Linked DNA regions of Homo sapiens. The protein of the gene in region 7 purifies or fractionates together with the protein of the main gene of each other region. This does not show direct contact. Each region holds a gene or a part of one and is shown on either strand. Other genes may lie near its edges.

Region 1 (3,500 bases), about 44 Mb from region 7:
GGATCGCTTGAGCCCAGGAGTTCAATACCAGCCTAGGCAACATAGTGAGACCTCGTCTCTATCAAAATAAAAATAATTAGGTCGGACGCAGTAGCTCACACCTGTAATCCCAGCATTTTAGGAGGCCAAGGAGGGTGGATCTCCTGAGGTCAGGAGTTCAAGACCAGCCTGACCAACATGGTGAAACCCTGCCTCTACTAAAAATACAAAAATTAGCTGGGCATGGTGGCACATGCCTATAATCCCAGCTACTTGGGAGGCTGAAGCAGGAGAATCGCTTGAATCCAGGAGGCGGATGGTGCAGTGAGCAGAGATCGTGCCACTGCACTCCACCCTGGGTGACAGAGTGAGACTCCATCTCAAAAAAAAAAAAAAAAAAAAAAAAGAATTAGCAATATTAAATCTCAAGAATAAGGAAATCCACAGAGTCAGAAAGCAGATTAATAGTTGTCAGAGAATTGAGGGGAGGGAAGAACGGTGAATTACTGCTAACAGATATGGGGTTTCTCTTTGGGGTAATAAAAATGTTCTGGAATTAGATAGTGGAGATAGCTGTACAACCTTGTGCATACACTAAAACCCACCTTAAAATGGTGAATTTTATGGAGACAGAGGATGAAAAGCCAGTGAGAGTGAGTATGTGGTGTCACAGAAGACAAATTAAAAAAGCATTTCAAGGAGAGAATAATCAATTATGTCAAAAGCTGTTGTGAAAGCATGTTAAGAGGAGGATGAAGTGACCACTGAATTTAACAATGTGGAAAATATCTGGTGAACTTGACTAGAAAGTTTCTGTAGAGCAGTGAAATAAAAAGGCACCTGGCTTAAGAACCGTGGAGCCAGAAATTAAGACTTTTAAATTAAACTGATCACTGAATTCAAAAGGGTAACTGAGCCACTTTTACTACATGTTGCTTCAAATCTTAAAGCGTGGGCATTAAACTCTCTGTGCCTGAGTCCCCATCTGTAAGAAGGGGGTTATATCGCTACCTGTCTACCTCACAGATAAACATAATACAAGTCTTTCCTCTATAGAATATGGCCTCTAGAGGAATGATCTATATTTTATTTACCTTTCTGTCTTCCACAGCACCTGGCAAAGAGCCTTCATGTATGCTCAGTTGTTGAATTAAGGTAACATATGGGCACAACTTAAATCATAAAGCAGTACACAAATGTAAGATATCGTGAAAATCAAGTACTTCTATCTCATACGTAAAATAAAGACAATGCCCTCCACTGAAATATGTTCAAATAACAGGACACAATTTTCATAACAAAAGGTTTTCCAGAATGTCCTTCCATATATCTTGAAGGGCGAGCTACCAATGAGGAACAGGTCAAAAAGCTCACCGTTCCCTCTGGTTAAGTTATGATGATATGGTTACAGGAGATAATAAATCAGTTGATTGGAGAAAACAGGTAAGAATAGTTCTTTGAGACTGGGTGTGGTGGCTCACATCTGTAATCCCAGCACTGTGGGAGGCCGAGGCGGGGGCAGTTCACTTGAGGTCAGGAGTTCGGGACCAGCCTGACCAACATGGTGAAACCCCATCTCTACTAAAAATACAAAAATTAGCTGGGCATGGTGGCACAAGCCTGCAATCCCACCTACTCAGGGGGCTGAGGCAGGAGAATCGCTTGAACCCGGGGGGCGGAGGTTGCAGTGAGCAGAGATCCCACCACTGCACTCCAGCCTGAGCAACAGAGGGGGATTCTGTCTCAAAAAAATAGTTCTTTGAAATAAAAAAAAAAAAATCAAAAATCACAAGAGTGGGCCACTTGCTGATAAGCTCACTGTCTTCTCTGGTTAGGTTACAATGATATGGTTATAGGAGATAATAAATCAGTTGATTGGAGAAAACAGGTAAGAATAGTTATTTGAAATAAAAAAAAAAAATCACAAGAGCAGGCCACTTGCTGATAATCTTCTCCCATACGTAAAATGGAAATGCAAACCCCGTTACAGTATTTAAAGAGATTCTCTCTGAGGTTGCAATATCACAGAGTAACATGTCTTACAAAACTCACAGATGCCCAGAAGACTTCAATGATGCAATCACAAGCAATACTGATTACAGCTAAACTTATTTAACACACACACTTCTTTCAAAACATCAACACCATACCCTATGATCCAAAATAACTCTACAACTAGTAGCTGTCATAAATGAACAGAATAGAAGGTTAAGTCAGTTTTCTGGGCAACTTCTGAATAAGTCAATTATAAGAACAAAATATCGACCTGCTAATTTTTGTCTAAAAAGTTTTACTATGAGTGCTTACTTCAGCAGCACATATACCAAAATTAGAACAATACAAAGAGTATTAGCTAAATTAAGAGAAAAAGTTATACTACAAAATTGATGAATTTTTCACAAGTTTGTATACTTTAGGAGGCTAAATTCATCATCAACAATAAAGTTAACACAAACTATAAGCTAAGTGCACACAACAAATATGCACATTTATATTAGAAAACCTACTTACTTAATGAAGCCTTTGTAATTCTGTTCAGAATTACAAAAATGGTAAATTCTAGGATTATGGGTAAAGAGAAGTGTCTTTCTGCAAAATATACTCTTGACTCAAACAAAATTGGAAAGCTCAACTTTCCCTTTTCCCTTCAACCAGACGTCACCAATTCCTTCATGACCAAACTTCATTTTACAAGGCTTGAAACATGCACAGGACTAGACAGGTAACTCCTATATCAGGATAAATATATTATTTCCTCACAGGATAATTTGATAAAAGCAGTAATATTGGTTTTTATTTTCAGCCCATCTTTAAAACACCAAGAATAAAAACACTGAGGTTCTTACCAGCCACTTAATGAACAACCCCTTAGAAATGACAATTTAGGGTAAGGGTGCACCTACTAAATGTATGTAGATTGGTTGTTTAATTTGATCAGAGTGGTTCCATTACTTGTGAATTTGACAATAAACAAAAACAGCATTAAAAAAAAACTTCTTGGCCGGGCGTGGTGGCTCACGCCTGTAATCCCAGCACTTTGGGAAGCCAAGGCTGGCGGATCATGAGGTCAGGAGATCAAGACCATCCTGGCTAACATGGTGAAACCCTGTCTCTACTAAAAACACAAAAAATTAGCCAGGCGTGGTGGTGGGCACCTGTAGTCCCAGCTACTGGGAAGCTGAGGCAGGAGAATGGCATGAACCTGGGAGATGGAGGTTGCAGTGAGCTGAGATCGCACCACTGCACTCCCGCCTGGGCGACAGAGCGAGACTCCGTCTCAAAAAAAAAAAAAAAAAAGCAAAACACACTTCTTATTCTTGGAGAATAAAAACAATCCAAGTCAGCAGGCATTTGCAGGCCATATTGACATGACCATTCTTGCTGTCTCCTGTATGCTTGCCTCTGTGCTGAAAGGGGTTTCCTAATGTATCATAACAACATTTATTAGTCAGAATCTGCATAAGTATTTAAGCATATTGATTCATGCCAAGCCTTCTGGGAAACATCTTGACTCCTCCCTC
Region 2 (3,500 bases), on a different chromosome or scaffold from region 7:
TTAAATTTAATGAACTGCAAGATGTATACACTGATAAATATAATTGAAAGAGATTAAAAGATCTAAATAAACAGACATTCATGTTCATACTCTGCAAAGCAACCTACAAATTGAAGATAATCCATACCAAAACCCCAGCTGGCTTTTTTGCAGAAACTGACAAGCTCATTATAGAATTCATATTAAAATGGCTGGGCAAGGCAGCATATGCCTGTAGTCCCAGCTACCTGGGAGGCTGATGGGAGAATCCCTTGAGCCTACAAGTTCAAGTCTAGCCTGGGCAACATAGCAAGATCCCGTCACTTAAATAAAAACTCATATGGAAATGTAAGAAACCCAGAATAACCAAAACATAAAATAGAACAACAACAATGGGGACTCACATTACCTGCTTTCAAAACTTACTACAAAGCTACAGTAATCAAGATAGTGTGGTTCTGGCATAAGAATCGACATACGAATAAATGAAATAGAATTCATGATCCAGAAATAAACTTTTCTTAAAAATGATTTTTGAAAAGGGTATCAAGACAGTTCAAGTGAAGGAGTCTTTTTAACAAATGGCACAGGGACAACTGAGTATCAAGATGCTAAACTGAGTGTAAAATAGTATAACCACTTCAAAGAACAGTTTGGCAGTTCCCTCAAAATGTTAAACATAGTTACCGCATGACTCGGAAATCCCACTCCTATGTATGTACCCTAGAGAATGAAAACACATGTTTGAACAAAAACTTGCACCTAAATGTTCACAGCATCACGATTCATAATAGCCAAAAAGTAAAAGGCACTCAATATCCATCAAATGATGAATGGATAAACAAAATATGGTATACATCCATCCAAAAGGTTCCATACAATGGAATATTAATTGGCTGTAAAAATAAATGAAGTCTTTCTATATGCTATGACATGGATGAACCTCAAAGCATTATCCATTTGCAAAACCACATATCACATGGTTCTGTTTACATGAAATGTCCAGAAAAGGCCAATCCTTAGAGACAGAAAATAGATTAGAGGGTGCCGGAGCAGAATGAAGGGGGCAAAGTGAAGTGATGCTAAGGGGCATGGGGTTTCTTTTTGCAGTGATAGAAATATTCTGGAATTAGATAGTGGTTTGCACGATTTTGTGAACATACATTAAAAATGACTGAAATGTATACTTTAAAGGGTAAACTTTATGTGAATTACATCCCATTAAAGCTATTAAAAATATTACTTGGAGAAATTAAAGACAACCTAAATAAACAGAGGTATATATCATGTTAATGGGTTGAAATAGTCAATTATCCCTAAATCGATCTACAGATTTGATGTTATTTCAACTTAATATCCCAGCAACTTTTGTGGAAATTGACCAGGTTGTATAATTTTTTTTTTTTTTTTCTAAAGAGGCATATGTTGCCCAGGCTGGAGTGTAGTAGGGCTTCACAGGCATGATCATTGTGCACTGTAACCTTGAACTCCTGGGTTCAAGTGATCCTCCTGCCTCAGCCTCCTGAATAGCTGGACTACAGGCACCCCCCACTGCACCTAGATCAAGTTGTACTAAAATGTATTAAGAAAATGCAAAGGGCCAAGACTTGCTGGGACAAACTTGAAAAAAAAAAAAAAAGGCAGGGCTGGAGGATGTAAATTATCAGGTATTAATACTTACAAAGGAGTAAACCAGAGTGGACATACTCTAAAAACTTCCTGTGTTATAGTTCTAAGCCTAATACCACATACACACTGAAAAAATTAACTGTAATATCGATGCATTTTCAATTTTTGCAAAAACCATAAGGAAAAAAGAGGTTAAATGAAGGCTTTAAAGACAAAGAATCAAGCAATCAGAAGTTATAAAAAAAAAGCTATTCCACTTGGGACAAATGGGCAGATGGGAAGAGGTTGTGAAGAGCTTTTTAAAATGTGAATAAGATGCTTGAAAACAAACTACCATCCTCAGGTTTAGTTTAAACCTGCCCATAAAGTTTGGTCTAAAGTAGCTCAAGGTAACCAAGCATGGAAAACTTGTTAAAGAGAAATGTGATGGACAGCTTTTGAGGGGAGTAACTGAGTTTCCTCACCCAAGGGATCACCCAATTGTGGAATGCAGTAAGATTACTTTGCCTCTAATTTTGTTGAAAAGCAGAATAGTATTTTCTTTATAAGACACCTTAAAACTAATAAATAAGATCCAACAACAAATTTTTTAAAAGTTTTCTACTTCCATGAGTTTTTCATTGCTTACTGAATACAAACCTGTTCCTTTTTTAGAAGATCTGCCTTTAGTTACTGTTGGTTTCTTCTTCACAGCTGGTGCCTGAAAAGCAGAATGTTCCCTCCACCTTCGAAGCTGAAAATTAATGAACTTCCACATCATAAATGCCTGAGTAACGCAAATGGATGCCAGAACAGCGATTCTAAGAAATATTAAGACATAAAAAGTTAGTGTATAAAAAACAATGCCACTGAATACATTCTATCATCTTTCATAGTATTTAGTAATAATTCCCACTCAGTTGAGAAAATTGTATTAATAATCATTGCATTAATAATTTATCCTAAAAGTTAAATGCTTTAGTACTTCACTTTAGACATGTAAAATAGCAACGGGTATGAAATAAAATCAAATGAGTATTTTCCCCAACCTCATATTCATCCTTTTTTAGATGATTCAATGTAGAGAAACTGATAATATATATTATCTAGCTGTATAAAGTGAAAAAAATGTTAAATTGATCGTACCTAACAGCTAACACATTGAAGTTTCCAGTACTGAAATCCAGCTTCTGATTTTCTGCTCTTGCAAGGCCAAAACCAACAGTCAGTACTGAAAGAATTAAAGTCAGAAGTCTTCCCAAAACAAAAAGAACTGCCCACAGAGAAAATCTGCAAGAAAAAGGCCGTAAGTCAAATTCCTGAAATCTCAAAAACAAGATTCTATTAGAAATTAGATTCCTAAGTTGGGCGTGGTGGCAGACGCCTGTAATCCCAGCTACTTGGGAGGCTGAGGCAGGAGAATTGCTTGAAACCAGAAGGTGGAGGTCACAGTGAGCAGAGATTGCGCCACTGCACTCCAGCCTGGGCAACAAGAGCGAAACTCCATCTCAAAAAAATAAATAAATAAATAAAGAAGAAACTAGATTCCTATTAAGTAAAAGCCTATTAAAATAGCATTTCTTATTCTGCAAAAAAGAATTTTGAGTCAAATATCTGGGAAAGGCTATATATCACACTCAGAGAGATATAACACATATTAGCCTATTTAAATTTCTAAAACAATCCAGGAAATAAATGTTTAATTTTCTGTTTAGCTTATCTCTTTTCTTGTATAAGAACTATTAATATTCCTCAGAACTACTAGTATTCAGAATAATTTTGGAAAATGCTGGACAAAACAAACCAAAAAAGCTGTGTTATAAAGAACAGGATGCCCAATTCTCATTTAAGAGTCCCAGTTTTTGGCACAAGACAGGGATGGCCTCTCTCACCACTCCTATTCAACACAGTGT
Region 3 (3,500 bases), on a different chromosome or scaffold from region 7:
AGAATCAAAAGTAAGCTTCCAAGCTCACGGCCAGGATTACAACTTCATATTACAGAAATGTTTAATAACAAATATTTGACTAACAGATTATAATTCTGAAGTTGTACATTTTTAAAAGCCTTTTAATTTTGCTTCTTTACTAAAAAAACTATGAACTGATGAACTCACAATAGAAAATTAATAATAATTTCAGGGAAAAAAAAAAAAGGCACATCCAGGCACCACATTCAAGGTGATCGGTAAAACGCAGTGTCCCGGGTCTACTGCACATAATCAACAGACTGCAAATAAACTACTCCGGAAAATTCTAAAATAGGACAAGAATATTCTGTAAAAGCCGGGATAACACGACTGCACTGACGCTCTGCTAGAGGGCTGTTCTGTTGCCAAGGTGCGAGCTTCCCAGAAGGAGCAGCTGCTGGCCATCTAAGCGCTCACTCCCCACAGACGCTTCCCTTCCACGGTCCATCATCTCCGAGCCATCAGAGGCTGGACCGTCTCTCCGGTCTGGGCACACACCTCGTGATTGCAGCTCTCCACAGCACCGGGGCGAGCAAGAGGCTGAGCGTGGTCACACTCAGTATAAGGAGGTACACCTGCAACAGCAAAGTGCAGAGCGGGTCACAGAGACTGTCAGGACTAGCACCTGCAACAGGAAAGCACAGGGCTGGTCTCACTGAGCTGGGAGGGACGCCTGCAAAGCTAGAGTCCTGAGGCTGAGCACAGTCACGCTGAGTGCTGGGAGGGATGCCTGCACGGGGGGGTGGGGGATGGAAGCTAAGCGCGGTCATGCCGAGTGCTGGGAGGGACGCCTGCACATCATAAATTCACTACTATCTCTTTAAAGCACATGGAAGTACAGCCAGAAGCTGAGGACATTGGGATGTAGGAGAGACTGTGATTTCAAGATCAGTGATGCATGGTTAGTCCTGATGGGCCACAGGATAACAGCTTTAGCCTGTGTTTGCCTGAAGGCCAACCCCGGGCCACAGTAACAAGCCAGCCTGCCCCACAGCTTCCCTGACCCTGGGGATGCGGCCTTGGGTCAGGCCTCAGGTGGAGCTTCCTGTAAGCAATTCTACCTTTCAGCAATTACTTCCACTGCACTCAACACCTGGACTTCTACCCGCCTCACACTTACACAATGCAAGGAGACAAGGCCGTGAGTCCGAATGCCCAGGGCCATCTCAGTGTCCACAGGAACCTCCACCCAGCTCTCCGGGCACACTGCCATTACGGGTATTTCACGTTTCTGGGGTGCTACTTATGTGCACACTGGCAGTTCAGCTTTAAAAAGTTAGTTTTCTTTCAGAAGAAATATCTGACATTTAATTAGACTTGTTGTAAAAGGTTAATGCAATAGTTCAAGCAGTACTAACTGCAACTTTCCTCTGAAAACGCCACATGCTGGATGAGCAGAGAGCAGCCAGGCCTCTGCGTGCCCCCCTGGAGGAGGACCCTGCCCCCAGGCCCCGCTGTGCTGCCGAGCCGCCTTCGCCACACCCGACTCAAACCCAGAGTGCAGCCCGTGCCGCCCGAGAAGCGCTCCGCGGGGGGAAGCCACTCACCTCCCGAGAGATGACGCCCGCTCTTCGCGCCCGGCTCCCCAGGACAAAGGAAAACTCGCTGACCTGGGCAAGCCCCGCAGAGACGATCCACTTGATGTACTGGCTGCTCCTCGGCAGAATGAGAGACAGGACCAGCGCCGCCAGGAGAAACTGCAAGAGCGGTTCATTACGTCACTGCTGAAGACTGGACCCACACAGAGTTAAACACACACGAAACAGAGAACCCAGACGAGCCACAGGCACGCTGCGATGGTCCCTGAATAACACGTCAAGTAGGGAAAGGCACAGAAGCACTCCAAACACCCGAAGGCACCAAATACACGCAAAACCTCTTAAATAATCCACACTGAACAATAAGGCAAAATTAAGCCTTTCGGTTCATTAGCAGAAAATAATAAGCCTTGCCCAAGCCCCCCCGCCCCCGCCCCAACCAAACTAGATTAATAGCATTAAGCGTGGGGTACTCAAGGTGGAAATTTCTTTTTAATACAGAGAGATGTGTGTCTCTGGGCCGAGCAGCTAAGAGCTGGTGGTGTGTCTTTGGGCCGAGTAGCTAAGAGCTGGTGGAGTGGTCCAACGATCATCACAGCTTCTGGCTCCTTAAAACGGAAATGACCTAAGTCACTGTCTATGAGCCAGAAAGCCACTGGTTGCTGACTAGGTCATCACACCTTCAATTAAATGTGGACACAGGCAGCTCGATCACTGGCAGTCACGGGGGACAGACAGAAAGTGCCTACACCATTTTCCAGTCTTTAAAAAGCATGTCTGCATCTGTCAGAGGAGGACGGGCTGGACTGCAGCCAAGGCCCGTCCTGAGGGTCCCAAAAGGTTAGTTCCCCCCTTTAAACACGCTCAATTCTGAAACAATCGATCACATGGACAAACCCAGACCGCCCAGCCTCGTCTACATCTGCCTCCCCCGGGGTCCAGTGGCCCAGTGGGCCTCCTCCGAGATGAGGAGCAGGGCCGGCTCTGCAGGCCCGATGTGGGCCCCACTGGAAACCAGGGCCACAGGGAGGGCTATGCTGAGCCTGCAAACTGCGAGGGGCGTGGACCCTTCCAGTCCATACCTTCATCACCACCACTGACAAGGTGAGGAACACCAGCACCGTGAGCTCGTACGCCACAAACGTGGGGAACACGTGGAGCCCTGTTGGGAACAGGACAGACACGTTACGACCGCAGGACAGCCTCCCCCAGCGCACACTATTTCTCACAACTTCAGTGTGTCACTTGCTTCAATACAGGAATTAAAATCCTAAATCCTCCCAAGTGCACGTGTGAAAGCAACAGCAAATGCTAAAAAGCCGCCCCTTTCCTGAGCGAACCGGGGAAAAGCCTGCCCTGGGATGACCTGTCTGATGTGGTGGGATCCCAGCTCCACTCCCTGCAACAGGCCTCAACTGCAGAGGACACAGCAAAACACACAGAGGCGGCACTCGGTCTGGCACTCCTTCAGGAAATATTCCAGCTGAGGTGCAGATGATCCCAGAGCCCACAGCCCCACAGTGCCCAGGAGTGCCCAGGAGTGCCACGCTCACAGGACGCCTGTGGTCAATGTTCCTTTCCTTCCTTTATTTGGCTCACACATTTTTAAAAACAATGGGAAACGTTGTCTCCACATATTTCTTCTCTCTGCTCTCAGGACTCTCGGACTGGGCTGCTCAGTCCTGCTGTGCTGCCGAGTGACGCAGAGGGGCCGGCGGTGCTGGGGCTGGACCTGAGCTTGGGCTCAGCTCTCCAGCCACAGCCTGGAGCTGCCCAGTGATGCATGTCAGCCCTCGGAGGAAGCCCGGCAGCCCAGAGGCCTCCTCTTGATCGGAAGGACCCAGACCCCAGGGTTAGGTGCACGGAGCAGGCCCATGACCTTTCTGCCGTTCACAAACCACTGTCTCTACCTGACCCAGAAACACAAATGTAAACACTGGC
Region 4 (4,265 bases), on a different chromosome or scaffold from region 7:
TAACTCTCTTCTACGAAGTTGCCGCACTCCTCTTCCTCCATTATCTGTCACTCCCTTTGCCTTGGTCCCTCTTTGCCTAACTGCCTCTTTTAACTGATCTCTCCTCTTTCCTTCCTCCTCTACCTCAGCCCAGCTCTTAACCCATCAAAAAATAAAACTTGGTATATAACTGCAATGGTATAACACTCTTCTGCATCTCAACCAATTAGGAACTGTATCCAAGAAATCTGTTACTGAAAAAAAAGTACCAAAGTTGTATGTTACATAAGCATGACAGATGTATTACATAAATAAATAAGTAAAAGCAGAAACAGCGTCAACCTGATTGTGACCTTTCATGAGAATGAGTATGGAAAGCTGTCCATCAAAGAAAGCCAGGACAGTATTCCTCAAAACTACCAAAGTTATGGAAAACCAGACAAGACAGAAACTATCACAAACCAAATATTAAAGAAACATGATGTCAAAATACAATGTAGTACACTGGACTGGATTCTGGAACAGAAAGAAGATATTAACGGAAAAACTGGTGAAATCCAAATAATGTCTGGAATTTAGCTACCTAAAAAAATACAAAATTTTTTAAAAACTATATGAAGCACTAATGTGTGATTCAGATTCAAAATTATTATTATATTAGTTAAAAGAGGGATAGGGCATGCAAGTGAGCCAGGAGCAAAACTCCAGTCAGAGTAGCTGGAGCGTCCCACTGAAAGTTACAAACAGATCTATCTTCATTTTGACTCTGGTCCCATGCTCTCTCACCTGATGTCATGAGAATTACCTTGCCTGTAACTGCTTGGGATTAACAATCAGTTTTGTTGTTGTTGGGTTTTCAGTTTTTTGAGACAGGGTCTCGCGCTGTCACTCTGGAATAGCTAGGACTACAGACGCATGCCACCACACCCAGCTAACAACCACGCTTAAGTATCCTAGCACACTCATTCGTTTATCCAACAAGCATTTATACCAAGTGCTTATTGCTTACCAGGCACTGTAAAGTCTTCAGTGATACATGGCTGGAAAAGGAAGCCACAATCTCTGCTCTCATAAAGCTTAAACTCTATTGAGAAAGCCAGGCATTTAACAAGTATTTGCATAAATGGTGAGTGCTCCCAAGAGTTTTGCAGTCTGCTGCTTAAGAGGCACCAAACAAACCAGCAGAGCAGTCATTAAACGCAGTTATCACCAGCACGCTGAACAAAGGCTTCTCAGGTTTCAAAGTGCACACAAATAACTTGAAATCCTGGTAAAGCAGATACTGATTCAGTTGATGTGCAGCGGGGCTTCACATTCTGCATTACTTGAGTCTGAGGTGACAGGGATGCTGCTGGTACACCATCCACACTTGGAATAGCAGGACTCGGAGTACCATGGAAACATCCTCAAAGGATCATGTAAAATGTCAATTCCAATAGGGCAAGGACATTGTGTCTCCCTTATTCACCATGTACCCAGAACTTAAAACTGTGCCTCATAGACAGATCGCATTCAGTAAATATTTACTGACACAACAAATGTATGTATAATTTAGACCAGGGCTGTTCAACTGTAGCAAAGAACCACATTTAGCTATGGAACACTTGAAATGTGGCTACTGTGACCGAGGAGCTGAATTTTTAAAATTTAATTTTAATAGTCACATGTGGTTAGTGGCTCCCACGCTGGACAGTCCAGGTCTGGACACAGATGTGATGTAAAGAGGACTGGACTAACAAGGTCTAGGTTTGAATCCCAACTCTGCTGCTCAGATTGTGACCTGAAAAGTTGCAACTTCTTAGGGCCTTCACTATTTCATCTGTGAAATGACAAGACCTCCTAACTCTCAGCGTTCTTGACACGATTATAAAGCAATGTATTAAACATAAGATATGATCAAAGTGACATTCTCTGCCCTCCAGAAACAGTTCAGAAAGACTACTTTGCCTATTGCCCACTTGACCAAAAAAATGCCAAGTGAGTTTGGTAGACGGGTTGGTTAGCTCAGTGGCTTTGAGAATGAGGACAAGGTCACAAATCTGGGGAGTAAGGGAACCTCATCTAGCAAGGCTGACCAGATAAGAGAAGCAATGACAATGCAAATCATCCCAATTCCTGGTAAATGCTTAAATGGGCAACGTATTGATTATGGATGAGTAAATGACATCTCATTCATTCATTCTTCCAGGAAAAGCGGAAAAGCTACTACATTACCTAAAGCCCGCTACTTCCCAACCACAAACATTTGCTAATTTAGGTCCGGGTCCTCCTCGGGGGCAGCGGGCCGGGAAGCCCCCTCCCCCGCTGCCGGCGTGTCTTCCCCTCCCCCGTGGCGCCGCGAGGGTCAGGCTGGCACCGCGGTTGCAAGTACCACACGGCCGAACCCAGAAGCCATATTTAGCTTTATTTTTGTCAATAAAACAAACTTCCGTCTTCTAAAGAAAAACGGTTCTAACTCAATGTCAAACTAGGACGGAAACTCGCTGCTCGCCAAAGCTGCCAACCAGAGACGCCGCGTGTCCAACGGCACCGGGGTCCCAGACCCGAACCCGCGCCGAGCGTGCCCGCGCCCCGGCCCCAGGCAGCGCCGGCCACAAAGGGACCGGGGACGCGGCCGCGGCGGGGCCTCTTTCTCCACCTCCGACCCGCGCGCAGCGCTGCGGCTCCGGGACTGCCCAGCCGCGGGCGATACACTCACCTCGCTAGGCGCGCGGCGGCGGCGGCGGCAGGCGTCCTCCGGGCCGGCCGCGGCGGTCGCGGCCGGTCCCGCGGCCAGCGCGCTACTCTCGGGCCGCCGTCCGCCGCGCGCTCCTCGGCCACTGCCGGCGGCTCCCCCGGCGGGCGGGCGGGTCCGGCCGGGCCCCGCTCCGCCGCGCCCGCCCCCGCCTCCGCGCCCGGCTCGGGTCGGCGGCTACTCCGGGCGCCCCGCTCGCGGGCTCGGGCGGCGCTACTCCGGGCCGCCCCGCATGCGCGCCGCCTGCCCGCTCACTTGGGGCTCGTCGCGCGGCGGGCGCCGCAGGGCGCCCGCAGGCGCTCGGGCGCGGTCCTCCCTGCGCTGCGTGCTCGGCGGCAGCGGCGGCGGCGGCCCGTGCGGCTGCGCGGGGGAGGCGGGGGCGCCGGCGCTCACCCGGATGCGCGCCCCCTCCGCTGCGGCGAGCCCACCGCGGGGCCGCGACGCTCCCCTCGGGCTCGGGACTCCGGGGTCGGGCGCGGCGCCCCTCCCGGACCGACCGCCCAGTCCCGGCCCCCGCTCACACGGCTACGGGCAGGGCCGGGCCAGGCCGAGAGGTGCCCCCGACCCTGGGTCGGGACAAAGAGGCTGCCGCAGCAAGTTAAAGACAACTCGGGCTGTTGCGCGTCGAGCAGGTCACGGGGTGGGAGGAGATGGAGGAGCCCTCACAGCGGATCGGCTCCCGGGCCGAGCGCGGGGCCGCCCCAACCCGGTCGGCTGCCTGAGGCGGCCGCGAGCGCGGGAGCTGGAGCGCTGTCAGCCGCGCTGAGCCTGCGCCTGGCGACCGCGATGCAGGAGGCCCGGGACTGAGGGAGGACGGCGAGAGCGGAGGCCCGCGACCCGCACCGCCGGGGCAGGCACCCGGGTCTCGGGGGCAGCAACGCCGGGGCCCTTGCAGAACGGGGACTGTTTGGGGAAGTGGCTCCCGCACAGTGCCCGGAGAGGGGCCCTCCCTCTGTGCCCCCTTGGGAAACACTGCTTGGTACAATTCCAATACCCAGCTGTACCCTGCCCTGAAGATAGAAGACAAAACCCTGGCTCTGTCACTCACGCGAGGCATAACCAACCATTCTTTTAATAAATTAATTTTCTACTTAAATAATTCAGAGGTTTGTGTCTTATTGCTTGCCAACCAAGAGCTGCAATAAGAGATTACTTAATATTTAAGTGGTCCCACTTTTAAATTTATATTACCTCTCACATAACCAAAAGGCTGTCCGAAAAAAAAAAAAAAAAACCTGAAGATTATCTCTGGAATTTTAGTATCCTGTTTTTGCTTGTCTACATCTTCCAAGTATTCTAAAATAAAAGTTAAAAGTTACTATTTTAAAAGTACTTATATAATATTTTGAAACAAAGTCAATCATGACTAGCCTGTTACTGTTCCACAAGGAAACTTCACTTTGGAATAAAGTTGTCATCGTTAAAAAATACTCTTATCTTGGGAGAAAAGATTGGCAAATCATATATCTGTTAAAGGACTTGTAGCCAGAATGTATGAAGAACTCTTACAACTCAGTAATAAGACTAATAGTCCAATTTTAAATGGGCAAAA
Region 5 (3,500 bases), on a different chromosome or scaffold from region 7:
TAAATTTACCTTTTCTGAAGTTAGATTTTTTAAAAATATGCATAAAGAAGCATGCAAATACTACTGAAAGCATTCATAAAGGCTATAGTCAACATATATAAGCTTTTTACTTAAAAGTTCGATATGAATTCAATATAATCTTTGGACAATTTGAACTTTATTAATTTTTTATGTAAATCTATAATGCTTTTGAAGGATGTGCAATATGAAAGGAATACCATAAGTTCAGAAATACTTGTCTTTATTATAACCTTGTAAATTAGGCAAAAGTGAAAATACATCCCACGTTTTTAAATCTGAGATAGGCTGAGAGGAAAAACAGGTTTTAGAAATTACATACTTGGTAAAGAAGAACCAGGACTAAAAAATCAGGACTTCTTCAAGTTTCTCACTACCGTCTACTGAAGGGCTTTGTGGACCAATAAATATTAAAAATTAGATTTAATTAGAATATGATGTAATGAAAAGTCTACTAGGAAAGAATAGAGGTGGGGAGAATTAGTAGAGAATGAGGATAACTTACATAAATATAAAGTCTGGATGGTAAAAACTTTCAATTTTTAAACAATGTGTCCCCTACAATGTTTATATATTTTTTTTAAAAAAGGAAATACCTTGGAACAGGGTTAGCAGTTGCGTACAATCCTGTAATGTTGCTATTCTCAGGAGGGCTTGAATTTGCAGCAGCATGCTTGCACCGGTTGTATATTGTCTAAAGCAACGAATGTATGGTTTAAAAATGAGAATCAAAAGGTTACCAAGTACTTAAAGGACATCAGAGTTTATAAATCTATCTATCTAAACTTACCTTCTTGGCTATGCTTTATTCTTTTTTTTTTTTTTTTCTTTTTGTGTGAGACAGAGTCTCACTCTGTCGCCCAGGCTGGAGTGCAGTGGCGCGATCTCGGCTTACTGCAAGCTCCGCCTCCCGGATTCACGCCATTCTCCTGCCTCAGCCTCCCGAGTAGCTGGGACTACAGGCGTCCGCCACCACGTCCGGCTATTTTTTTTGTATTTTTAGTAGAGACGGTGTTTCACCGTGTTAGCCAGGATAGTCTCGATCTCCTGACCTTGTGATCCGCCAGTCTGGGCCTCCCAAAGTGCTAAAATTACAGGCGTGAGCCACCACGCCCGGCCCTTGGCTATGCTTTTTAATGATCAAATGGCCATATAATCTTTTAATTCAAAACTGACATAACTTAGCTGTCTTAAGAAATAACATTATTTCCAACATGCTGTATGATTAAAATTTGTCTTTTAAATTGTGAAAATAAATTTCACTCCTTACCGTACTAACATCCAGAGGCAGTATGAAGACAATAAGAAAGCAGAGATACCAAGCAAGCAGTGTTCCAATAATCACAAGTCTATGCTGTTTCTTAAAGTCTCCATATCGATGAAGCAGAAATAATGCCAGAAAAAAGACAAAAACAATCTCAAGTCCCAAAGCTGCACCACTCATTATTGAATATTTCACTCTGACTAACCAAAGTTATTCATGTACAGGTCTGGACCATATCTATAAAGTAAAAAGAAGGTTAAAATGCATCATTAACACAGGAAATGACATTTGGAAATTTCATCTGAATATTTATTAGTACATTAATACATTAATCAACTCTTTGGAGAAATGTCATGCTTCACATTGGACTATGAATAAGATTAAAAGGGTAATTCCTATCCTCAAGTACTTATATTTTATTTTTAAAGCACACTTAAAAAATTTCACGTACCTTGTATTTTCAAAAACTTAACAAAAATTATTAGTTCTTACAATATTACAAATTAAGAAGTTCTTATTTTAGATGTGAACAGTTTTAATACAGTGTCATCTGGAGTTTGTTTCTTAATATTATAAGTCCTAACAGAATAGTTTATGCAAATAAGCTGTTAACTAAATCCTAGGAAATTAGATACTTAGTAAAATACATTTTACTAAGATTATTCATCCTCTATAATTTAAGATTTTCTAAAAGAGAGGAAGGAAAAAACGGAAAGAGACCATTTAAAAGTAACCTTTTGTTTTTTGAAATAGTATTTTTCTTTTGTGTTAATTTCACCTAACAACTCAACTTTCATGAAATTCTTACTCACTGCTTTACAAAATATATTTATCACTTCCATTTATCTACATAAATCTTTAAACTTACTTTGATAAATTCTCATTTTTAATTTTTCTACTATTTTATATGCAGAAAATTTATCAATGACTATTAAAGTCATACATTTGAAAACATTCTTAATTTTATGATACAGTCATCAGCGAATAGTTTACTTGATATCTCTCTACTCAAAAAAGTTAGAGTATAGAGATTTAAAGTCTCTATTTTAAAATTGAAAAATTTGATATCTCTCTATACTTAAAAAAATTTACTAATCAAAGGCAATATGAACTTTTTCTCCTTTGTAAAATCAATGTTAGACTTTTGTTTATCTACATACTACAGTATTTCAAGGAATTGATTAATATCCTAACACAGAGAATCAAGAGTGTGATCAACCCAACAAAATAAAATAAGGGGCAGTGGCTCACACCTGTAATCCTAGCACTTCGGGAGGCTAAGGCAGGCGGATCACCTGAGGTCAGGAGTTCATGACCAGCCTGGGCCAACATGGTGAAACACCATCTCTACTAAAAATACAAAAATTAGCCAGGTGTGGTAGCGGGTGCCTGTAATCACAGCTACTCAGTAGGCTGAGGCAGGAGAATCGCTTGAACCTGGAAGGCAGAGGTTGCAGTAAGCCGATATCGTGCCATTACACTGAAGCCTGGGCAACAAGAGCAAAATTCTGTCTCAAAATAAATAAATAAATAACAAAATAAGGGAGAACCAATGAAATACTTCAAATCAACAAACATCTTTAACTAAAACTATTTAGAATAATAGAAAAGACAATTTAAGTACTTTAAATGGTTAAATTTAAATTTATATACAAAATACTCCTACATGAACTATCACATAGAAAAATCACATTTAATGAACAATTTTCTTCACTATTTTTTATATTGGTAAACAGTTTCCATTTCAACTGTCAATATTTTCATTTTTCTTAATTATCTAAAATTGAACTTCTTTCATCAATCTCTACCCTCTTATCCTGCTATATTTTCCTTCAATGCATTTATTCATCTGATATAATACACATTCTTTATATTTATTGTCTCTCCACACCTCTCCCCTTACCCCAGAGACTCTATGAGAGCAGAGACTTGACTATTTTATTCCATACTATATTCCAGTTGTCTGATGTAGTTAGTACCTGGCATACAGTAGTATCAAGAAATATTTGTTGAAATAATAAAAAATACTGTGTAGTTTAGTACATACACTATTTTTCTATTACTGACGACTTCAAAGGCAATGTAAAACTCGTGTAATGGTAAACTGATTTAACAAATACTTATTACAACTCAAAAGGCTTAAAACTCTGAACATTACCAAATACTACTCAAATTTTCAAATTTCATATTCTATGAAACAACTTATACCACAACAAAG
Region 6 (3,500 bases), on a different chromosome or scaffold from region 7:
GCCTCGGCCTCCCAAAGTGCTGGGATTACAGGCGTGAGCCACTGCGCCTGGCCCCACTTCATCTTCTTTCGTCATTCCACCAAATTTAGAATGCCCTCCTTTTCTCCACTTAGCCAAACTCTAATAATCCTTCCGAAATGCTCAAATCCTCCTTTTTCAAATCCTCAAGTAAAGCCTTAACTCACCAAACCCTAACATGACATGATCTCACCATTTTTGTAATAATAACATCAGTAGCTAACAATAAATACATACTATGAGCTAGGTATAGTTCTAAGGTCTTTATATGAACACTTAAATAATCATCTCAAAATTCTATAAAATAGGTCCTATTACTTCCCCATTTTACAGACTAAAAACAAAAACAAAACTAAAGAACAGAGATGTTAAGTAATTTGTCCAAATCAATCAGCATCAAGTTTAAAAGGTTAGTATTTTTGCTAATCCCTAGTCAGCTTCATTCATTAAAGAGCAAAAAACTAAATCAAGGAAATATGAAAACAGTGCCAGGTGTACAAAGCAACTAAAGACAGTCCTGAACACTGAATAACTTTTCTATGTGAGCCTTTAATCTGCCTGAAAGAAAAAAAACCTTCTAAGAAGCTATTTGCACTCTAATCTCAAAAGGAATGACCTTTATTCTCAAGAAGTCACCAATGTTGGGCCCCTCTTATTTAAATACTGTTTATGTGTTGGGGGGGTACCAAAGTTTTCCTCCTTGACAGAGGTAATGAATTAATTATTATCAGGAGAAACGCTTTAGAAGATAATATGCTGACGTGGTCATGTGAAATCTGAATAAGAAATCACAATTTACATAGATGAGCAAAGGACTGAGGGTTCAGAACAAGCACCCAAATGCTATCCTTCATTTTCATACAAAGGGGGAAAAATATATGTGTTTACTTCAAAATAATGTTCCAGAAATCATAATTTCAAAACCTTTAAATTATTAAAACACACATCAGAATTCTAATACAAATAAATTAGAAATGTAATTTTGAATAGTCTCTTGAGATAACTACTCTCTCTCAAAAATAGCTTTGTACCTAAATAAACTTTCAGTCTATCATTGAGTAGAGCTGAAAATAGGACAACGAATTACGGCATTTAACAATCTACATTAGATAACTCACAAATTCACTTATAGTAAACAGCTTATACTCTTTATAAGTTTTCAGTAAGTTTTAAGAGTTCCTATACTCCCAACAGAGACAAAGACAAAAGGTTTCCATTTGCCAAAGTAAATCAAACAAAACATTTCTGAAATCACTCCGTGATATAATACAAATTATTTATGAGGCAGAGGCTGAGTAAACGATTCTAGTAGGCATCCAGTCTGTCCAACATTAGAAGTCTCAAGATTACCAGAAGTACACTGGGCCACAGAGAAATAGGGAATTTTAGCCTAGGTAGGACCCCCAAATCAAAACAGAAGACTATGCATCTTAAAGGAATAACGGCCTCAGTTTGTTCATTGTGCTTCCACACTGCATATCCTTGTCACTAGTAGCTCCCTAATTATTCAAGTCATTCAACAAGCACTCATCAAGTACTATTTGTGCCAAGCACAGTGCTTGCGTATATAACAGACCAAAAAAAAAAAAATCTGACTTTGTGATCTTGTTAAGGAAACAGAACCCATAAAAATTCAAGGCTACAGTGCAAACTATAAAATGCTCTAAGATTCCTGTGCCCCTAAGTACTGGGTTTTTGCTGCTAACATCTTTACATATTATAACTATGGAATTACATGTAAAAGACAGGTAGAAAAGACAAGACTGGCGATCAGGAAGCTCTGATTCTTTCTGTGGCCTTGAGCAAGTCTCTGAACCTGTACAGGCCATTAGGAAAATGAAGAGTTTTGGATTAAATTATTGAGTCTTTCTAGTTCTAAAATTCTATGATTCTCAATCTGAAATTGTTTTTAATGGAGTCCTTCGGAATCTTAGGAGACATAGTAATCTAACTCTAGATGCTTCCAAGTGCTTTGAGTTTTAGAAAACCAAATAAGCATAAACATACCTTTCACTGACTATAAAGAAGCCTATGTCCCTTCAATCAGTTATTAAAAGCCTGTCTTCCACAAAAGTGTTAATTTTCATTTCAAACAACATGTCTGTAATGCATATGATTCAACTTTTAAAAATTAAAAGGAACACATTTTTACATATTCTAGATATGTACATACAGTCAATAGCACATTTCCTTTTCAACACTCTTCAGAGAATATTAAAATAACTTTGGACAAATAAGCACATAAAATATATACATATATACCATAGGGTCAGGCGCAGTGGCTCACACCTATAATCCCAGCACTTTGGGAGGCCGAGGCAGGCGGATCACCTGATATCAGGAGTTCAAGACCAGCTGACCAACATGGAGAAACCCTGTCTCAACTAAAAAAATACAAAATTAGTCAGGCACGGTAGCACATGCCTGTAATCCCAGCTACTCAGGAGGCTGAGACAGGAGAATCGTTTGAACCCGGGAGGCGGAAGTTGCAGTGAGCCGAGATCACGCCATTGCACTCCAGCCTGGGCAACAAGAGTGAAACATAGTCTCAAAAAAAAAAAAAGAAAAAAAAGAAAGAAAGAAAGAAAAAGAAAAAAAAATACCATATGGGTCAGATGGCCACCTGAATCCTAATTCAGTAGGTACAGTAAGAGATATCAGGGGCTTTGGGGAATGGGCATAAGGTATTGTCCCTTCTTAGGACAAGCTATATAATTTGTGCGACCCAGTACAGAAAAATACAGAGCCCCTTGTTAAAAAATTTAAAACTTCAAGATGTTACAGGATAGCATGAAAACAAGCTCTCACACAGTCTTTTGTGACTATTCAGGGCACGTGCCCATGAAGTCAACACTATTGCTCCTTAATGCTAACCCAAAGATCTCAGAAACAACTCATCATGGAGCCACACTCATTCGAGCATTTAAGCATTTAAGCACTTAAAAATCAATATAGAGAACCACTCAATACCTAGTGCTTTACTGTCTTATTTTTAGGATAAAGGGGAATAGAGCATATGGCGGCTCACAGTGCAGAAGACTATCAACTCAGAATGCCTAAGTTCAAATCCCACCTCTACCCCTACCAGATGTGTGTTATCTGCAGGTGACCTCACCTCTCTAGATTCACTTTCCTCATCTACAAAATGGGCATATTACTCACCTCGTAGGTTATTAATAGATGAGTTAATAAGTGTAAAATACTTAGAACAGTGCATAGCCAGCAGGGCATGGTGGCTCACACCTGTAATCCCAGCACTTTGGGAGGCCGAGGCAGGCAGATCACCTGAGGTCAGGAGTTCAAGACCAGCCTGGCCAACATGGTGAAACCTCGTCTCTACTAAAAATACACAAATTAGCCAGGCATGGTGGCAAGCACCTGTAATCACAGCTACTAGGGAGGCTGAGGCAGGAGAATTGCTTGAACCCAGGAGGCAGAGATTGCAGTGAGTGGACATTGTGCCACTGTACTCCAGCCTGGGT
Region 7 (3,500 bases):
GAGCCACTGTGCCCAGCCAATATTGTGTTTTTAGCAGAGATGAGGTTTCACCATGTTGGCTGAGCTGGTCTTGAACTCCTGGCCTCAAGTGATCCACCTCCCTTGGCCTCCCAAAGTGCTGGGATTACAGGCCTGAGCCACCACGCCTGGCCAACACCCACACTCCTTGTTATTGTCTAGCAACAGGTCTGGGATACACCTGTGCTTTCTCCTTTCATTTTGGTTTCCGCCTTCCACAGGGTAAAGTCCTAGACATTTTTGAAGGAGTCATTTAGTTGTGCTTAACTGTGCAGACTTTATCCAATCAACAGACATCTATTGAGCTCTCACTGTGTATGCAGCATAAATCCCAAGCTGGTATGTATCCCTGCTGAAGGGTATTGTTTATAGTGTTATTTAAACAAAGATGTAAAGTTAGGGATCTTTTGTGGCTTGTGCAGTTCCCTGGGGAATTGGGGAACTCTGGATTCTACGAGTCTCCATAAATTCTTCTCCCTTCCCCCTTTTTACTATGAAATTATTTACTATCTGCCCATTCTACTAGACTCCAGGAGTCAGGAATCATATCTAGTTATGGCCATTGTATATTCTGATTGTTACATTACTGACCTTGCAATAGATTCACAAAAAATATGGGATGCATGGCTGAGAATGAATCCTTAATTCCAATAGGCATTGTATAAAGGATTACATCCCTTTTTTTTAGAAAAAATTTCCACTCTGCATTATATGTTTGTGACCCAGTCATGTTGTTTTTTTCATCTAGTGTGTTTCTCAACCTCAGCCTTTTTTTTTTTTAATTTATTTTTATTTTTATTTTTTTTGAGACGGAGTTTCTCTCTTGTCACCCAGGCTGGAGTGGAATGGCGCAATCTCCAGTCACTGCAACCTCCGTCTCCGGGGTTCAAGCCATTCTCTAGCCTCAGCCTCCCAAGTAGCTGGGATTATAGGCGCCTGCCACCATGCCTGGCTAATTTTTGTATTTTTAGTAAAGACAGGGTTTCTTTCTTTCTTTTTTTTTTTTTGAGACAGCATCTCACTCTGTTGCCCCGGCTAGAGTACAGTGGTGCGATCTCAGCTCACTGCAACCTCCGCCTCCCGGGTTCAAGAGATTCTCCTGCTTCAGCCTCCTGAGTAGCTGGGACTACAGGCACGTGCCACCACTCCCGGCTAATTTTTGTATTTATAGTAGAGATGGGGTTTCACCATATTGGCCAGGCTGGTCTCGAACTCCTGACCTTGTGATCCGCCCACCTTAGCCTCCCAAAGTGCTGGGATTACAGGCGTGAGCCACCGCGCCCAGCTAAAGACAGGGTTTCACCATGTTGGCCAGGCTAGTCGCGAATTCCCAACCTCAGGTGATCCACCCATCTCAACCTCCCAAAGTGCTGGGATTACAGGTGTGAGACACTGTGCCCAATCAACCTCAGCCTTCTTGACATTTTGAGTTGACTAATTCTTTTTTTTTTTTTTGGAGACGGAGTCTCATTCCAGGCTGGAGTGCAGTGGCATGATTTTGGGTCACTGCAGCCTCCCCCTCTTGGTTCAAACGAATCTCTTGCCTCAGCCTCCCGAGTAGCTGGGATTACAGGCACCTGCCACCACGTTCGGCTAATTTTTGTATCTTTAGTAGAGATGGGATTTCACCATGTTGGCCAGGCTGGTCTCGAACTCCTGGCCTCAAGTGATCCACCTGCCTCGGCCTCCCAATGTGCTGGGCTTATAGAAGTGAGCCACCGTGCCCGGCCTTGAGTTGACTATTTGTTGGGGCTGTTCTGTAAGATGTAGATACCTGGCCCCACCCAATAAATGCCAGTATAGCACCCTCACCCCCACTCCCAGTTGTGATATTCAAAAGTGTCTCCAGACATTGCCAAATGTCTTCTCGGGGACAAAAATCATCCCTAATTGAGAACCACTGATTTAGTCTATTGTTTTTACCTGCTACAGAGTATTCTGTGGTTCCGTGGTCCATCCACCAGTGTTAGACAACCAGACAGCTTCCAACTCCCAGCCTCCACAAACATCACTGTGATGACCACTCTCATACATGTCCCCTATGTGCTGAAGAACGAGATGATAGCCAGGCTTGGGTCTGAGTCCCTCTAGGTAGAGGGGAGGGGATGCACCCCAGGATGGAGCAATCTTGGGCACTACAGAATCACCCTTGATTTCTGTTGTTCAGTGACTGTCCATTAAGCTATTCCTATCAGCTGCTCTGAAAGAAGGAGGAGGCAGTCTCTCTAGGTTACAGCCCATTAGCCCAAGGAGCTTGGAGAGGGTAGGTGAGGAATGATTGCTGGCTGGACAGCCTGAACCTGTTTTATTAATTTCTCAACACTGGAGGGAGTTGTTAAAGGGGCAGACATGTACTGTAGGGAGAGGTAAGACTGGAATTGAAAAGCTTTTCTCCAGCATGCCCTCCACTGGGCCTCTGGTTCCTCTTTCTGCCCCAGGCTGTAGTCTCCTTCTTCCCCTAGACCAGTTCTAGACAACCTTTGGGTTATTCCTTCTTTTGTTTGCTTCTTTCTTCTGGTTGACTTGAAGGAAGTCAGTGCTTATTCCCTGTCTTGACAGCGCTTCCAGAATAGTCCTAGAGTCCACCTCCCCCTTCAATCCCTATTGTCTTTTTTTTTTTTTTTTTTTCCCAAAACGGAGTCTTGCTCTGTCGCCCAGGCTGGAGTGCAGTGGCGCAATCTCAGCTCACTGCAACTTTCGCCTCCCAGGTTCAAGCGATTCTCCTGCCTCAGCCTCCTGAGTAGCTGGAATTACAGGTGCCTGCCACCAAGCCTGGCTAGTTTTTGCATTTTTAGTAGAGACGGGGTTTCACCATGTTGGCCAGGCTGGTCTCAAACTCCTGACTTCAGGTGATCTGCCCACCTCGGCCTCCCAAAGTGCTGGGATTACAGACGTGAGCCACCGCACCTGGCCTCAATCCCTATTGTGACTAATTCAGTTCAAGCCTTTATCATCTCTCACTTAGACTGTTGTAATAGCTTCCATCCATGCCTCCATCTATCCCCGACCCCAATCATCTCGCTACACAGAAGTCAGAGTGATGCCTAATAAAACGAAAGAGTATTAATGGCTGTCATCAAATGAGAATTCGCTGTGTATCAGGCACCCTACTTATATTTCATCAATCCTCATGACAATCCTACAAAAATAGGTTTTTTATTCTGTTTTGACAGACAGAGCAGGTAAGTAACTTACCCAGGACACTTGGCTGGTGAGAGGCAGAGCTGAGATAGTTTCATTTGTTTCTAAAATCCAGAGCTGCTTTACTCTTTCAAAAATCTCATGTGATATGACTAGTTTACTCAAAAAAATTAAAAGAAAAAAAGAAAGAAATCTCACTGCATTATGCTCAGGCTGAAAACCTTTTGGGATTCTTCCCATCACCTACCCTAGTGGTTTGCAAACCGGAGGAGCTCTTGGGGTTCCCTGGAGGTTCCTTAGGGTTCACCATGGGAAACAAGTAGGGGATAGGAGCTGGTGGG

What was found.
Region 1: the proteins of SLC35F2 (region 7) and RTN3 purify together in Homo sapiens (affinity purification with mass spectrometry; one large-scale study listed by BioGRID and IntAct). This does not show direct contact.
Region 2: the proteins of SLC35F2 (region 7) and TRAM1 purify together in Homo sapiens (affinity purification with mass spectrometry; one large-scale study listed by BioGRID and IntAct). This does not show direct contact.
Region 3: the proteins of SLC35F2 (region 7) and SLC9D1 purify together in Homo sapiens (affinity purification with mass spectrometry; one large-scale study listed by BioGRID and IntAct). This does not show direct contact.
Region 4: the proteins of SLC35F2 (region 7) and GALNT1 purify together in Homo sapiens (affinity purification with mass spectrometry; one large-scale study listed by BioGRID and IntAct). This does not show direct contact.
Region 5: the proteins of SLC35F2 (region 7) and LMBRD2 purify together in Homo sapiens (affinity purification with mass spectrometry; one large-scale study listed by BioGRID and IntAct). This does not show direct contact.
Region 6: the proteins of SLC35F2 (region 7) and TM9SF3 purify together in Homo sapiens (affinity purification with mass spectrometry; 2 studies listed by BioGRID and IntAct, with this or other methods). This does not show direct contact.

Annotation. Positions count from the first base shown.
Region 1 is NC_000011.10:63,688,000-63,691,499, reverse strand, and holds part of RTN3 (reticulon-3), read right to left. Parts: intron 1-3,500. UniProt on the Homo sapiens protein: May be involved in membrane trafficking in the early secretory pathway. Inhibits BACE1 activity and amyloid precursor protein processing. May induce caspase-8 cascade and apoptosis.
Region 2 is NC_000008.11:70,580,917-70,584,416, forward strand, and holds part of TRAM1 (translocating chain-associated membrane protein 1), read right to left. Parts: intron 2,878-3,500; coding exon 2,734-2,877; intron 2,409-2,733; coding exon 2,248-2,408; intron 1-2,247. UniProt on the Homo sapiens protein: Involved in the translocation of nascent protein chains into or through the endoplasmic reticulum (ER) membrane by facilitating the proper chain positioning at the SEC61 channel.
Region 3 is NC_000013.11:113,546,521-113,550,020, reverse strand, and holds part of SLC9D1 (transmembrane and coiled-coil domain-containing protein 3 isoform 1 precursor), read right to left. Parts: intron 2,722-3,500; coding exon 2,642-2,721; intron 1,719-2,641; coding exon 1,569-1,718; intron 597-1,568; coding exon 483-596; coding exon of another isoform or gene 469-482; 3' UTR 1-468. UniProt on the Homo sapiens protein: Probable Na(+)/H(+) antiporter.
Region 4 is NC_000018.10:35,580,275-35,584,539, reverse strand, and holds the start of GALNT1 (polypeptide N-acetylgalactosaminyltransferase 1), read right to left. Parts: upstream 2,801-4,265; 5' UTR 2,678-2,800; exon of another isoform or gene 2,672-2,677; intron 1-2,671. UniProt on the Homo sapiens protein: Catalyzes the initial reaction in O-linked oligosaccharide biosynthesis, the transfer of an N-acetyl-D-galactosamine residue to a serine or threonine residue on the protein receptor.
Region 5 is NC_000005.10:36,141,888-36,145,387, forward strand, and holds part of LMBRD2 (G-protein coupled receptor-associated protein LMBRD2), read right to left. Parts: intron 1,520-3,500; 5' UTR 1,463-1,519; coding exon 1,289-1,462; intron 713-1,288; coding exon 615-712; intron 1-614. UniProt on the Homo sapiens protein: Recruited to ligand-activated beta-2 adrenergic receptor/ADRB2, it negatively regulates the adrenergic receptor signaling pathway. May also regulate other G-protein coupled receptors including type-1 angiotensin II receptor/AGTR1.
Region 6 is NC_000010.11:96,580,513-96,584,012, forward strand, and holds part of TM9SF3 (transmembrane 9 superfamily member 3 precursor), read right to left. Parts: intron 1-3,500.
Region 7 is NC_000011.10:107,848,788-107,852,287, reverse strand, and holds part of SLC35F2 (solute carrier family 35 member F2), read left to right. Parts: intron 1-3,500.